Linked DNA regions of Homo sapiens: region 1 is linked to region 2. A link means that fine-mapping ties the variant in region 2 to the expression of a gene that starts in the linked region. Tissue or cell type: whole blood. Region 2 holds a variant in brackets; the other region holds the start of a gene. All regions are shown on one strand. Distances are between the middles of the regions.

Region 1 (8,123 bases), 140 kb after region 2:
ATTAACTTACCGATTATTGGGAACCTGCAAAAAAAAAAAAAAAAAAAAACACACATGCTGTCTGCAGCCACTGTTTGGTTATTTTTGATAGTTTAAGAGAATTATAAATCAAGTTGTTCTGTCTACTAGAGTCAGAAATTCTGTGCTAGAATGGGACTTCTAAAATTAGGTGGTCCTGTCACTTTCTAGAGAAAGACCCAAATTCATAGGTTTAAGTGGCTTGTCTGACATACACATACAGCCAGTTAGTAACAGAATTCAGAATAGAATAGAGTTCTTTTTTTTCTGTCAGTCCGTTGTTCTACTTCTCTTTCCTTTTCTTCATGGTTGAGCAGCTTTTGGCAAAATGTGTTCCATATAGCAGTAGTTCCAAGAGATGTTAATAGATGTAAGAAAAAAAGTGTGTGTGTGTTGGGGGTGGGGGATTGCATGGTCAATTAAAATGAAGGAATGCTGAGTTTGTTTCCTTACTGTAGGACTTCTAAGAGTTTTGAACATGCTATTACACATTGTGAATTTATAAAAGGGGACAAACACTGTTTGACCTTAGACTGCACTCCCCTTCTTTATTCCTCAGAGCATCTCAAAGGACTACAGGGTCCTTTGAGAAACATGGCCCTTGATCAAGTTTACAACTCTTTGAGAAGACATCCCTAATGGAAATACTGAATGGCAGATCTATTACTGTGGTACCATGTAGTGTGTAATAAATCTTGAAGTCCAGAAAGCAAGTATATTTGCTGTTTAGAGCTATACTTAAGGTATAGAGATTCTTTTCCACCTGTGGTGTGTAAAATCAGTATTGTGTTTAATTTTGCAGGTTTTTCAAGGATCAACTAATGTGCAAATACAGTGGTGATATATTGATATTACATTTTAATAATGCTTTTGTATGGCACTTTATAGTTTTCAGACACCTTTTGTAACAGCCCTGTGAGACAGACAATATTATCCTTATTGTACAGATGGGGGGGCTCTGGAGGCTCTGAAAAGTTTTTGGTGATATTCCCCTAAGTTTATACCACAAAATGATGGAGCCAGAATTTAGTTGCAGAACTTCTGACTCCAAGTCCAGAGTTCTTTACTAGACATCTGGTTTCTTACTAGCTTTTTGCTAGCTTTTTATTTTACAGTGAAAAGTATGGAAGCAAATCCTGATAATTTTGGCTTATTATCAAATATCATTTATTTTTTATTGCAGAGACCCAGCAGATGTAACTCTCATTGTAGCCATCCCAAAGAAAACCCTTCTTTGCCCTTTGCAGTGCCACTTATTTAGGTAACTGAAGTGTATTTCCAGTACAATTTGATTTTGAACTAAGATTTGATATAGAGTTGTAATTGCTTACATAACTCTTTGAAAATGTATCATCCCTGGGTTCTCAGGTGAAGGAGGCAATTCAAAAGTAAAAAAGAATATTCGAATACAATAAATACCCTCTGTTCTCACACAAATGCTGTTTCTTAGCTAACTTGCTTTGACAACCTACTGATGTAACTTCTTTATTAATGTGAAATATTTATATTTTGAAATAAAATTACTAGTGTTGAATGAATCATGTGGTAAACTTAATCTCCTGTGTGTTGAAAAACTTGATCTTTTGTGAAGCCAAAGTTTCATGAATCCATCCGTCTCTTAGGCCTTCTGTTATGCCATTTCCTCCGGCACCATTGTGTACACTGAATTCTTAGGAGATACTGTCAACTTCGTAAGGGAAGGTGTGTCCAGGAAGTGGACACTGGGCGCCTTAAAGAGGTCAAGGGCCCTCAGTGCACAGGGGAAGGTGGCCTTGTGATAGGTAAGGAAGTGGTGAGATGGTTGGCTGAGAAGAATTGGAAGAAAAAGTTGGATTGAGGACCTGTCCTTTTTGAATGAAGAAAAAGAAGCTGAAGCTTGGCTATCTTCAATACCAAAGACAGCTGTGCAGCACTGGTAGATTGATGAAGCTGAAGCTACAGGTTGAAGCACTGTGAAGCGCCTTTCAACGGTGCTTGGGAAAGAGCTTTCTTATGCCTCAGGTTGATGTACCCAGCTCATCAATCTGGTGTTATGGAAGAAGAAATGATCCAGGCCAAGGTGTCCGGGTGGACTGGCCAGCCTCAGATTCTTTTTTACTCTGACAGGTTCTCACTGGCAGATATGGTAGTTGACAAAACATTTTTTCATGCTTCTCAGTCTGTTGCTTAAGTCTGGAATTCCTTCACGGCGTGCATACTGCTGACAACCTCCTTTTGGCCTTGCTCCTGGAGACCTTAGAATAGGAGTCTTCAGCTCCCCGCCCCCATCGTGGGGCTCTGTGCGAGCTCAGAGTTGTGCTTACAGAACTGATTCTTACCCTTCCCCTCAAGTGAGTTGTCAGAAATACACACTTGGTGTTTTCATGCAATGAACAGTTATGAAGAAACTGCTCTGTGCCTGGCACTAGGAAAAAACTTCGAAAAATAGTTTTAAGAAGTAGTGTTGAACAGTAGATGAGGCTTTTTCATGTTTCTTTTAAATTTCTTTTGAATAAGTCTAAACAGTAGTGTGAAAGATATACTGACTTCCTGCCGAATACCCAGATACTCCATTAATGATTGCATTATCAAATGTTTCCCCTTCAATCCAGCTCAAAGTGTTTGTGAGAAATACATGGTGAAAGAATGAGCAGGGTGGAGTGGAAATTGGACCTTCCGGAGAAGCCCCAGGAAGACATTACCACTGGAATTCCCGTCCCAGGGGAAAGGCCCCTCCCAACAGACTTGATTCTGGTTTTGGTCTACCAGTTTCAACCCCAGCACAGCTTCCAGAAGTCTTTGCGGGAATTCAGAGCTGATTTAGGACGAGTCACCTATCGAGAGGACGGGAAGCTTTGCTGGGGACGCTTGTCTGTCCAAGTAAGAGGAGGCCATGTGGCTGTGTGACAGATGTGTTTTGTTTCTCCTCGCCACCCTGGCGAGAAGGTGCCTGGAACCCATGGAAGGGGTCTGAGAAGAGATAAGGGCGGGGCCATGTGGGGGCGGGACCCGGCTTAGGGGGTGGGGTTGCAGGGAGCCCACACCAGGCTGGACTGCGCGGGCGGGGCAGAGGCCGGGGGTGGGCGGGGACATACGGTGACGGGCGTCGGGGACGCAGGGTTGGCGGCGGAGCCCTGGGGGGGCGGGCCCCTGGGGGCGGGGTCTCGGTTGGCGCGAGTGTCCTGTCGCCGCCGCCTCGGGCGGGTGGGCTGACTGGCGGCAGGCTCGCCGCGGCGCGGAGTCCCGGCTGCGGGATAGACCGAGGGCCATGGCCGCCTCTCCCGGACCCGCCGGCGTTGGCGGCGCCGGAGCAGTCTACGGCTCCGGCTCTTCGGGCTTCGCCCTCGACTCGGGACTGGAGATCAAAACTCGCTCGGTGGAGCAGACGCTACTCCCGCTGGTTTCTCAGGTAAAGTGGCGCCTGGCGCGGCCCCTCTTCTCCTTCCCGCCGCGGCCCGCGATGGCGGCCGCCGCTCGCACGACCGGACGGGAGGCAGCCGCTGCCCCACTTTCCGCGCCGGCACTGCGGCGTTCTTGTCGGACCGCCTGTGTGGGGCTCCGGGACGGGCCTCGGCCCGGGCGGCGAGAGACTGGATAATCCAAACTCCGGCGGCAGGGTTGAGTGGACTCGGCAGCAGGGGAGGCTGCGGGGCGGGGGTGCCGGCCTGGGCCTTTGCCCCCAGTACCTGCCTCGGGTCTGCGGCTCCCGGGTGCCCCCGGCCGGGCGATGCCCCCTCCGCGGGGCGAGTGGTTGAGCCCAGCTCCCGAGGCAGAGAGGACCCCCGCGGGGCCCCTCGCTGGTACTTAGGGCCCTCCACGATAACCGACTTTGTCACCAGTTCGCAGCCTGGTCCCGAGCCCGGCTCCTCCGCCTGGGGTATTCCTCCCGGCCTCCCCGCCCAGCGTGCGCTCCCTGATCCTTTGTCCCTCCCCGCCGTAGGTCAGTTCGCTGGCCTCCCATTCATCCCGGCCACCCTACCCCTTCCCCTGAACCTGCTGCTGCTCACTTCTGCCCGCTTCTGTCCGGCCTCGTGGAAGAGTGACGTGGAGACTGTATGACAGTTAATCCAGATGCACACCGTTTTGCCAAGTCCCGTTTGGGATGTGTGCGTTACTGTATTTGCCAATCAGCTAACCGACGCCCTGAGTTTTAGGAAAGTTTTTGTTTCTCTGAGCTGGGTTATATGCAGCTTCAGGGCTAGAATTCCTCACTTAGGTCTGTGGTAAGATGCCAAGCACTGTGGGGAGTGAATTCTGTGCCTTCGGGAGCGCGTTGGCGATGTGTGACTCACATCTAGGTTGTAACCACTTCGTGACTCATACTAGGATTACCAAGATTTTAGAGGTAGAAGAAATCTTAAAGATTATCTGACTAAAAATTCTTTCTTTAGCATCCTTGACACCTGGCCACCAGTACCCTGCTTAAACATGTTCAGTGAAGGGGAGCCTGTAGCTGTTGCATAGAATTCTAAATGCTATTATCTCTTCTCCTGCCCAGCCCTGCGCATATTTGAAAACAGCAGTTACACATGTCCCTGGATTCCTGTTATGCTGGTTAAATAAACATCCCTATTTTCTTCACCTTCGCATGGCTAACGGAGCAGTGATGAATATATCTGACACTCTCCTTCCCTTTTCCTGTGTCTCATTGAGGCTCTGACCAGTGGGAAGGGGCACTGGGATCCCTCAGTAATGTCAGACCCTCCGCTCCTCGCCTATCTCCACTAGCACAACACAACCAAAACGAGAAACACTGGAGCAGTTTTAAGAGGCAGAGAGATAAGAGAGTGATGGAGTTCAAGTTGATAGTATTTTATCCATTTTTTAAATAACACCTATGTAATGCTTACTATGTGGTAGGCCAGGTTCTAAGCACTTTGTAAATATTAACTCATTAATTCTCATAACAATCATGTGAAGTTGGTATATATTCTCGTGGTATGGGAGAGGAAACTGAGGAATACTGAGGTTAAATAATTTGTTGTTAGGGCTTTCAATAAGTGCCAAACTGGGATTTGAATCCAGGTACCCTGGCTCCAGAAGGTTCTCTTTGCTACACTATGCTGTGTCCTCTCTAGAGATTAGAAGCAGTAATGAGATCTAGAGAAAAAGATGGTACATAGTGGAAAAACAAGCTAGAAAGTCATAATCTGGAGAAATGGCAACTTTTCACAGTATCCACTGCTAAAAATGTATCAGTCTTACAGCTCTGCATTGTGTAACTCTGGGGTAAAAGAAGCCAGAGAAGGGTAGGAGAGCAGAGGAAGAAAAGTATAAATCACTGCTGAGAGTTAGAGGTCAATGCCAAAGGGGAAGAATGCCTGCCTTTTTTTTTTTTTCTTTTTCCAGTTAAAGCCTTGTTCAGGGTCACAGCTGAGGTTTTGCATCCCACACATTGTGTATCTACAGCTACATCTCTACCACAACACCATAACTGATATTCCTCATAATTGACTGTCCTTAACAAGAAAAAGTTAAAATCAAGAAGTGTATTAAGCATGGCCAGAATACTCGGTTAACAAAGCAGGGAAGTACAATTTAGAATGATTTTAAAGTTTCAGTGTTAGGAGATTAAAACAGCAGTTCTCCAGAAAACTCATATGTCCACAAGTCTCATTTTCTGAGAATGCTGTATTATTACCCAACTCATGTTTCACCATCTCATCCACAAGGATATTTTAAGCATTTTAAGCAAGGATTTATTGTGTGCTTATTTGTTGCTGTTTTTTGAGGGGCTTATATTCTAGTTGGTAGATAGGTCATGTATAGAACAGCACATGCAAAGTGTCAAATGAACATCATCAATGGTACATACTCTAAAAGCTCAGAGAAGGCATGGATGAGTCAGCAGTGATGTCATGGAGGAGGCAGGGTTTTGAGGTAAACAAGTAGGACTGGCACTATACGGTTTAAAGTAGACAGTTTCTATTCTGGTATCATCTAGCTTCTTCTGACTCTCCAAGTGAAAAGTCCTGGGTTACTGGCCTTATTCTAAGAATGCAAGATTTTATCAATATTAGAAAAATGTGTATAGTTTTTTTTGCATTCACAGATTATAAAAGATGTATTTTCCTAACAATGATGCAGAAAAAGCATTCAACTAAATTCAGCTTCTAATAATGATAAGAAGCACTTAGGGAACTAGTGTTAGGAAAAAGTGTCCTTAACCTGATAGAGTATCTACAGAAAACTTTTACTTAACATCATAGCAACAGTCAAATTTAAAATAAACATTTCCTTTAAAGCCAGAAACCAGAGTGGGGTGCCTGCTATGCTTCTACTCAGCACTGCACTGGAAATTCTAGCCAGTGTAATATGACAAGGAGAAGAAATAAAAGGAATAAATATAGGAAAGGAAAAACCAAAAGTCTCAGTGTGATATAATAACCTATGCAGAAAACTCAAAACAGTCTACAAGTAAATTATAAAAATTAGGAGTGTTGGCAAGTTCACTGAGTGTAGGATACTAAAATCAATTGCATTTTTCTACATTGATAACAAACAAGGCACAGGCGCACTGGCTGGTGCCTGTAATCCCAGCTACTCTAGTCTCAGCTATTCAGGAGGCTAAAAAATGGGAGGATGGCTTGAGCCCAGCAGCTGAGGGCTGCAGTTAGCTGTGATCACGCCACTGTGCTCCAGCCTGGCCAACAAGGACCCTGTCTTTAAAAAATAATAAAAAAAAATAGAAAAAGTAATTATTAAAAAAATCCAGTTATATTAACAGTAACAGCAAAATATGAGCTTCCTAAGAATATGTTGCTTTTGCTATGTATATAAAGAGAAAGAGCTCTATCTCTATGTATACACAGCAAAAGTGGTCAAACTTCATGGAGAAAATTTAAAAATTTTATCAAAAGCCAACATGGATCTAAATAAATGGGAGAAAAGTACTGTGTTCAAGCCTAGGTTGACATATTATAGACATATCAGTTATCCCTATTGGTCAATTTAATGCAATTTCCATGAAAATTTCAGCAAGATTTTTCAGTAGAACTTGATAAAAGTAATTCTGAAGTTTATATGAAAGCACAAAGGGCCAAGATTAGGCAGAAGAGAAACAAGGTGGATGGACTTGCTCTGCCAGATTTCAAGACTCATTATAAAACTATAGTAATTAAGACAATGTGGGTATCAGAACAGGGTTGAAAAACATAGACCTGTGATACAGAATAGAAAACCCTAGAACAGATCCACACATATATGGAAACTCGGTAAATGACAATTGGCATTGCTGGTCAGTGGGGAAAGGAAGAACTTAAAAAAAATTAAGCTGGGACAATTGGATATCTAAATAGAAATTATGAAATTGGATCTCTGTCTCATACCAGTAAAAAGTCAACTTCAGATGGATTAAAGACAATATGAAAGTAAAAGCTCACAACACTTTTAGAAAAAAAAAAATAGGGCAGTATCTTCATTACCTTATGCTGGGAAAGGATTTGTTAGTATACCACAAGTATAAACCTTAAGAAAAAAATGGATAAATTCGACTTCTTTAAAATGAAGAACCTAGGCCAGGCGCAGTGGCTCACACCTGTAGTCCCAGCTCTTTGGGAGGCTGAGGTAGGTAGATCATTTGAGTCCAGGATTTTGAGACCAGCCTGGGCAACATGGTGAAACCCCGTCTCTACAAAAAATACAAAAAATTAGTCGGGTGTGATGGCATGCACCTGTGGTCCCAGGTACTCTAGAGGCTGAGGTGGGAGGATTGCTTGAGCTGGGGAGGTTAAGCCTGCTGTGAGCTGTGATCACAACACTTCACTCAGCCTGGGTGACAGAGTGACAGAATGAGACCCTGTCTCAAAAAAAAAAAAAAAAAAAAAAAAAAAAAGAACCTCTGTTCATCAAAAGGAAAACGTAAGTCATTAAGTGGGAGAATATGATTCCAACACAAATAACCAACAAATGATTTGTAGTACCTAGAATAAATAAAATACTCCAATGAATAAAAAATAAAAAGATTAGCCATTAAAAATTGGTCAAAAAATAATTTCACAGAAGAGGAAACAGCTAAAAGATATAGGAAAAGATATTCAACTTCATTAGAACTCAATGAACTACAAGCTAAAAAATCCACAGTGAGAATAAGTGTTGGTGAGGAACGTGGAGATGGTAGCAATATC
Region 2 (8,000 bases):
CAGGGTTGTGCATCTGTCACCACAATCAATTTTAGAACATTTGCATCATCCCCCAAAGAAATCCTATACCTTTAGCTACTACTCTGCAGTCCCTCATCTCCCTCCTCCCCACCCCAGCTCGAGACAACCACGAATCTTTCTGATTCAATATTTGTGTATCCTGGACTTTTTTTTTTTTTTTTTGAGATGGAGTCTTGCTCTGTCGCCCAGGCTGGAGTGCAGTGGTGCAATTTTAGCTCACTGCAACCTCCACCTCCCAGGTTCAAGCAATTCTCCTGTCTCAGCCTCTTGAGTAGTTAGGACTACAGGTGTGCTTTTTTTATTTTTGTATTTTTAGTAGAAACAGGGTTTCACCATGTTGGCCAGGCTGGTCTCGAACTCCTGACCTCAAGTGATCTGCCTGCCTCAGCCTCCTAAAGTGCTGGGATTACAGGCATGAGCCACTGTGCCCAGCCTTATCCTAGACATTTCATGTAAATGAGATTATATAATCAAGGTACGTCCATGTTGTAACATGTATCAGTACTTCATTTTTTATGACTGAATAATATTCAGTCTTACATATGTGGATAGATTTCCAAAGGGAAATAATAAACAGAATGAGATGTACTGCACAGTGTCATTTATGCAAATTAAAACATACACAAGTGATATATTAAGAGCACACCTATGTAAAAATAAACATAGAGGTGAATGGTAAGTTTCAGTGGGCCCTCACTGGTCAGCTCTGTTTGGGCATTTCCAGGCTTTGTGCCTGGCCATGAACAGGCTAATGCAGTGGAGCTGTGGGCAGCATGGCAAGGGGTGCTGTTGGCAGAGTGAGAAATTGTGCCTGGAACCTGAACCTTAGATCCAGGATCTGCTGAAGGCAGTTTGGTAATTATCGTGTAAGGTAATCATGCAAGAGTTTCAGGATGATAATCTTGGGAATATGAAAAACTTTTTGCAACCTGGCAGGACTTTACCCTGGACAGGCAGAATTCCATGCTACATAGAATGGACTGAGATGAGAACCTTACCCCACCACCAAATTGTCTGTTATCCATTATCGCTAATGTGTCCTTTCAGTTTATCATAGTAAAATATTGCTTTTCTAAGACGTATGTGTCAGAGTGTTCATTTTTTGTTAAAACTTCCATCCTTGGGAGAAGGTTATGCATGAAATATGCTGGACCTCGTGTCTAAGGTGGGGAAGAAAATGGAGTTAGTGATGGATTGGTGGAAAAATATAAGATTGGCTTTGTATAGACTGATAATGAGTGTTCCATAAATCAAGAAATACCAATTTAATTCTGTGTACCTAGGGTACTTAGAATTGTACAATTAAAATAATTTCCCATTAGAATTGTCTAATGCATGTAAAACATAGATCCTATTGAATGTCTTTATTTTCTAGCCTTCGGATAAGTACTAATAAGCTACAGTTTTGGCAAACACATTGTATCAGTATTGAAAGGTTAATCCATTTAGTCTGCATCAATCAAGTTCCAGTAAGAAAGATGGAAATCATACTAGCTGTTTAAACAAAAGACCAGCCCAGGGAATTGTCTAAGCAAGAAGTTGCGGGACTGGAGAAGCAAAAAGGGAGTACCAAGATAGCATGCAGAAAATAACTTCAGGAAAGTTACCATCCTTGGGGCTGGAGTTGCAAAGAGAAGGGCTTGAGATTATAAAAAGGTCCCAGACCAGGACCTCGCAGAGCTGTGACCCATCCTTTGAGAATGAGGCTGTGCTCAGCTGCTGCTGATGCCTCAGAGCAGCATGGGATGAGGTTGGTTCTGGGAGCCTAGCACCGAACTGGGAACTCAGGCCAACTGCCAGGATGAAGTAGAGTTGCTGAGAACTTGCTTATTGGAACAGCAATCACACAGGAAGGAACAGTCCTCTTTCCCTCCTCCTGCCTTCCTCTAATGCTTGCTATTGGCAGAGTCTAAGCACCTGGCAAAGGAGAAATGGTTTGCAGAGTACTCAGCCTATAGAAGGCTGGGTTGTAGCTGAGAGACAAGAGCTTAAATATTGGCACATGGTCCAAACTTATTTTATATCAAATAGAGATCATTTAATTTCAGGAAAAAAATCTAATTCTGCTCTGCTTATATTCCAGTATCAACTCCCGACTGGTGTACTGCAATTCAGTTCCTACACTAATGACCCAGAGTTAGTGCAGATCCCACAAGTGAAAGGGCACAGTTCACAATAAGATTGTCCACACCTCAGACCAACTGGCTATAAATGTGGGGTCTTCCCACAAGATAGAAGAAGCTTCCCACTTCAGCTTCTATTATTTGCTAGAATGTTTCACAGAACTCAGGGAAAAAAAAGTGCTATTTTTACTATGACAGTTTTATTATAAAGGATACAACTCAGGAACAGTCAATGAAAAGACACATAGGGTGAGGTCTGAGAGGCTCCCAAAGGCAGAGTTTCCATGCCTTCTCCTCGTGGGATTATCACATTGCCCTCCCAGCACATCGATGTGTTCAACCAGGAAGCTGCACTGGGCCGCAGTGTCCAGAGTTTTTATTGGGGTCTCACTATGTTGGAATGATTGATTTAATCATTTGGCCACATGGTTAAACTCAATCTCCAGCCCCACAACCCTCCCTATAGGTAGGTCTAGCACAAAGCCCCAACCTTCTAATTACATGGTTTTTCCAGTGACCAGCCTCTATTCTTAGTCATCCCGTTGCTCAGCATAAACTCAGGTGTAATCCAAGGGGCTCATGAAGAACAAAAACACTCCCATTACTTGGGAAATTCCAAGGTTTTAGAGTTTGTCTCCCAGAAACCAGGGACAAAGGCCAAATTCTTTATTTTTCAACAGTTTGCAATATAAGAGGAAAATGTTATTAAAGGCATGTCCAAGTGCATTTGACAGAACACAAGTTCCTATTACAAGTTTTAGAAGCATATATGATAATAGAAAATTAGTGCTAGAAAAGTCCTGAGAAGCCATTTGCCAACATGAATAAACTAGTTCAGAACATTTATGAGCTAGCTTTGTTCCAAAATTTGCTTTCATTTGGAGTTTAGAAACCTGTTGTTCTTTTTTTTTTTTTTTTTTTTTTTTTTTTTTTTTTTTTGAGATGGAGTCTCTCTCTGTCACCCAGGCTGGAGTGCAGTGGTGCGATCTTGGCTCACTGCACGCTCCACCTCCCGGGTTCATGCCATTCTCCTGCCTCAGCCTCCTGAGTAGCTGGGACTACAGGTGCCCACCACCACGCCCAGCTAATTTTTTGTATTTTTTAGTAGAGACGGGTTTCACTGTGTTAGCCAGGATGGTCTCGATCTCCTGACCTCATGATCTGCCCACCTTGGCCTCCCAAAGTGCTGGGATTACAGGTGTGAGCCACCATGCCCAGCTGAAACTTGTTGTTCTTAAAGAGACAATCGTACCCAATGGTTATTACTTCTCAGGCCAGTTTACAAAATTTAATAGGGCCAGGCGCAGTGGCTCATGCCTGTAATCCCAGCACTTTGGGAGGCTGAGGCAGG[C/T]GGATCACGAGGTCAGCAGTTCGAGACCAGCCTGACCAACATGGTGAAACCCCGTCTCTACAAAAAATACAAAAATTAGCCGGGCGTGGTCGTGGGTGCCTGTAATCCCAGCTACTCAGGAGGCTGAGGCAGGAGAATTGCTTGAACCCAAGAGGCAGAGGTTACAGTGAGCTGAGATTATGCCACTTCACTCCAGCCTGGGCAACAGAGCAAGGCTCTGTCTCAAAAAAAAAATAGTGATAATAATCCAGTAGTAATAGTAACTGGTATTTATTGAGCTGGAAATCTGCTGTATGCTAACGTATTATTCTAGATGCCAGGAAGTAGTGAGGATGATATGTTTGAAAATGGAAGAAGATGGGGAACCTGAGTCAGATGCAACATTAAAAGAGATTGTCTTTGTCAGTGAACTCTAGAATTTCAAAAACATGTAAGTGAACAATCATTGAATTCCTGGATAAATATTCTGAGACAAATGGCCTCAGGACTGTAGTGAGAAGTAACAGGAAGAAGATATATGAAGCTGCTTAACATACAGTAGTTTGTAGTGGCTCAATAACTATTCAGAAAAAAACAAAACTCGTTCAAGTCAGGACTCAGTCTATAGCAGTGAACCCCAGCCTTTTTGATACCAAGGACTGGTTTAGTGGAAGACGATTTTTCCATGGACTGGGTCAAGGGGAAGGTTTTTGGGTGATTCAAGTACATTACATTTATTGTGCACTTTATTTCTATTATTATGACATTGTAATATATAATGAAATAATTATACAACTCACCATAATGTAGAATCAGTGGGAGCCCTGAGCTTGTTTTCCTGCAACTAGAAGGTCTCATTTGGGGGTGATGGGAGACAGTGGCAGATCATCAGGCATTAGATTCTCATAAGGAGCGTACAACCTACATCCTTCACATATGCAGTTCACAATAGGGACTGCACTCCTATGAGAATCTAATGCCACTGCTGATCTAAGAGGAGGTGGAGCTCAGGCAGTTATGCAAGCCATGGGGAGTGGCTATAAATACAGGTGAAGCTTCGCTTGCTTGCCTGCCACTCACCTCCTGCTGTGCGGCTTAGTTCCTAACAGGCCATGGACTGGTACTGGTTAGTGGCCCAGGGATTGGGGATCCCTGGTCTCTAGTACTGAAGCAGATATAGGACTTAGCATAAAATAAGCATAAAACTAGAAAAAGTAATGCATTTGATCCAACTACTTTGGTGGTAAAAAGTTAGGATTGTACTTTATGATGTGATCAAGGTCCAGGATAGTAAAAATGGACTATTCAGAGTGCACAGAAGTGTGCCAGAAAAGTGTGACCTGGTGGCTTTTTTAAAGTATAATAAATCTAATGGACAAAATTAGCAAAGCCTCACTTTAAAAAAAGTAGCATTACAAATCCCAAAGAAAAAACTTAAAAATAACAAGAAAAAAACTCATAAAATAGAATGATTTTTAAAAGTTTGTACTGATTTACATTTCCTAATGTCTGTGGGTGATTTTATTTATTCCTTTGACAATCATTTATTCAGTGTCCAGTGCCAAGCACTATGCTGGGCAGAGAATACAAGATAAGTCTCACATGATTCCTGTGTACGTGGAGTAAACAGCCTAGGAGAAAAGATTTCTCTCACAAAGTGGAGGCATAATGCAGCCTTACCCTTCAATGTATGGTTTGATGCATTATGGTGGTAAGTAATCTTATAAGAAAGATAGACAACTGTTAGAAATTATGTGTTTAAAGAATTTAGCGACAAGTTGGGTATGGTATGGTTTGATGCATTATGGTGTATGGTTTGATGCATTATGGTGGTAAGTAATCTTATAAGAAAGATAGACAACTGTTAGAAATTATGTGTTTAAAGAATTTAGCGACAAGTTGGGTGCGGTGGCTTATACCTGTAACCCTAGCACTTTGGGAGGCTGAGGACTGTGGATCACTTGAGGTCAGGAATTCGAGACCAGCCTAGGCAATATGGTGAAACCCTGTCTCTACTAAAAATACAAAAATTAGCCGGGTTTGATGGCCGGCGCCTGTAATCCCAGCTACTCGGGAGGCTGAGACAAGAGAATCCCTTGAACCTAGGAGACAGGTTGCAGTGAGCCAGGATGGCACCACTGCACTCCAACCTGGGCAACAGAGGGAGACTCTGTCTCAAAAACAACAAAAAACAAAAACAAAGAATTTAGTGACCTAAGAAAATGTTACCTACAGGTTAACGCAAAATGGAAGTTGAAAATGGAATGGAAAAATCCTGTTATCAAGTATATAAATGGAAAAATCCCACTATCAAGTATATAAATGTATCACTGTTAACTTTTTTCTCTTAGAACATGTATATTGTATTAAACGTGTGATTCTCAAACTCCCAGGGGACAGCGGTAAGCCCGTGGTTATATGAAATTGTGCCTCTCTCAGTGCCCCAGGTTCCTCTCCTGTAAAGTGAGAAAAGGACACACCTACTCTCAGTTCACATGCAAGATTAGGTCCAAAGGTGTGTGTCCTACACCCTCCCCCATGAAGGGGATGATTAGCCTTCATCAAAGCCATTTTCTGAGTCCCCAAACATTTCTCGATATGTGTGAGAAAAAACAGTCAACACATTTTTAAAAATTCTCATTGGAACAGTTGTTACTGGATTTTCTAACCCTTCTTTATTCTCACTGCCCAGGTTACCCCTTCCCTACTGCTCCTCCTGTGGATCCATTTGCCAAAATCAAAGTGGACGACTGTGGAAAAACTAAGGGATGCTTTAGGTTGGTGGAACTGCAGGTTGGATAACTTTAAGGCTAAGACTGATTTACTTCTCAGGGTAGTATTTAAATTGCATGCAGTTCCTTCTAATCAGGGGGCCTGAGCTCCTTGATCACCTCAGCAGGGTTATGAAGTTTCGTAACGGCCATCCCGCTTTTCAGTCTTAAAGGCCTTTTAACTTTAGTATGTCCTGGGCCCGGGACCATTCTTCCATGGTTCTTTTCTAGCTGTACCACCATTGCTCCAGGTGTCTCCTACTCACCAATTGCTGATATGCAGAAGACTCATGTGACACAGAACGTGTCTGTGCTTATTCAGCAGGGGCTGTGGGCAGGACAGGCAATGATAGACATGTTTAGTACCCAATTCCTTTTTTAGTAAATAGTCCTGACCTATGGATATCTGTATGATTCTAACTAGTCATTAAGCATTCATTGTTGCTAGCTTGTTATCTCAGGCATGGTGAGTCTCTACATGATTATTAGTAGTATCACGACATGACGGGCTGGGCTAGAAAACAGTCATGTGGACAATGGGCCTCCCATCTAGACAGCTCAGCTTCTTTGGGAAAGCCTCCTCCTTTGAACCCTTTACTTCCTAAAACAAATTGCCCCTGAATAATTTGATGGTCAGGGGCAAAGTTTTGATGGTCACTGTACTGAAGGTTCTGATTTTGCTGTTGTTCAGTACTTAAGGTCTAAGAAGGAAAAATTGAATACAGGGGCTTTGAGCTTTCTTTGGATTACAAGGCCACTTCTAAGGAATGAATAAAAATAGCCAAAAATGTTCTTATTGAGGAAGATGGTCAGCAATGTATAAACCTGGTGATTGGGGGATATTTTGAGAAGGGAGGGAATTTTAGTACTCTACTGGCTTCAAAGTGACTTGTTTTCTTGTCCATTTACTCCTTTTTTTAACTTCCCTTGCTCCTTTTCATCTTTTTCACCCCAGTGCCCTGTTGCCTTGATCCTATTATATCTCTTCCTGACTGCTCGGGTATTTCTGCCAGCATAGTAGTACATTTCTGTCCCCTCCTCAACACTTAGCACCCCTGTGCCCTGTTCCTTTAGATACCTTCCATCTGCGCGTATATTGTCCCACCCATTGCTTCAACTTTCTACCATTCTGCAAATGGTGTAATACAGTGTTCCTCAAACCAGGGCTTGCCAGTTCTGAAAGGATCCACAAGTGCTCTGTAAGAAAATTTAAATTTGTGTTTTCATTTCAGTGGTGCTCTCAAAAAAACATGAATGTCTGCATAATCTCACTATCTGGATAATCACCTTATATTGTTGTATGTTTTAGTGTCTGAATTTGTAATTATATTAGCAGCAAGTAGCCCAACAGAACAAAGGCAAATTTTATAAATAAGGCCAAGCACAGTGGCTTGACTGTAATCCCAGCACTTTGGGAGGCTGAGGTGGGTGGATCACCTGAGGTCAGGAGTTCAAGATCAGCCTGGCCAACAAGGTGAAATCCCGTCTCTACTAAAAATACAAAAATTAGCCAGGTGTGGTGACCCATGCCTGTAGTCCCAACTACTTGGGAGGCTGAGGCAGGAGAACTGCTTGAACCCAAGAGGTGGAGGTTGCAGTGAGCCAAGATCCCGCCATTGCACTCCAGCCTGGGCAACAGAGTGAGACTGTCTCAAAAAAAAAAAAAGAAAAAAAAATTGTAAATAAATATTGCATTCATTCATGGTTCATGAGTACCAGATGGGGGTATTCATTTGGTGTATCGCATAAATAAGG

The links. PIP is the estimated chance that this variant, and not a neighbour inherited with it, causes the effect.
Region 1: it holds the start of CTNNAL1, and the variant in region 2 is fine-mapped to the expression of CTNNAL1 in whole blood (TOPMed, PIP above 0.99).

Annotation. Positions count from the first base shown.
Region 1 is chr9:109,008,585-109,016,707 of GRCh38, reverse strand. It overlaps CTNNAL1 (catenin alpha like 1), which reads left to right and starts at 3,209. Exons shown (of 19, transcript NM_003798.4): 1 at 3,209-3,406. The coding sequence starts at 3,266. TMEM245 (transmembrane protein 245) reads left to right here. Exons shown (of 18, transcript NM_032012.4): 18 at 1-1,573. RefSeq lists a silencer at 2,967-3,856 and an enhancer at 3,518-4,021.
Region 2 is chr9:109,147,887-109,155,886 of GRCh38, reverse strand. It overlaps FRRS1L (ferric chelate reductase 1 like), which reads left to right. Exons shown (of 5, transcript NM_014334.4): 2 at 6,167-6,251. Among named protein-coding and RNA genes, the nearest start is that of FRRS1L, 15 kb to the left of the region's middle. The variant C/T (reference allele first, on the strand shown) is at 3,496.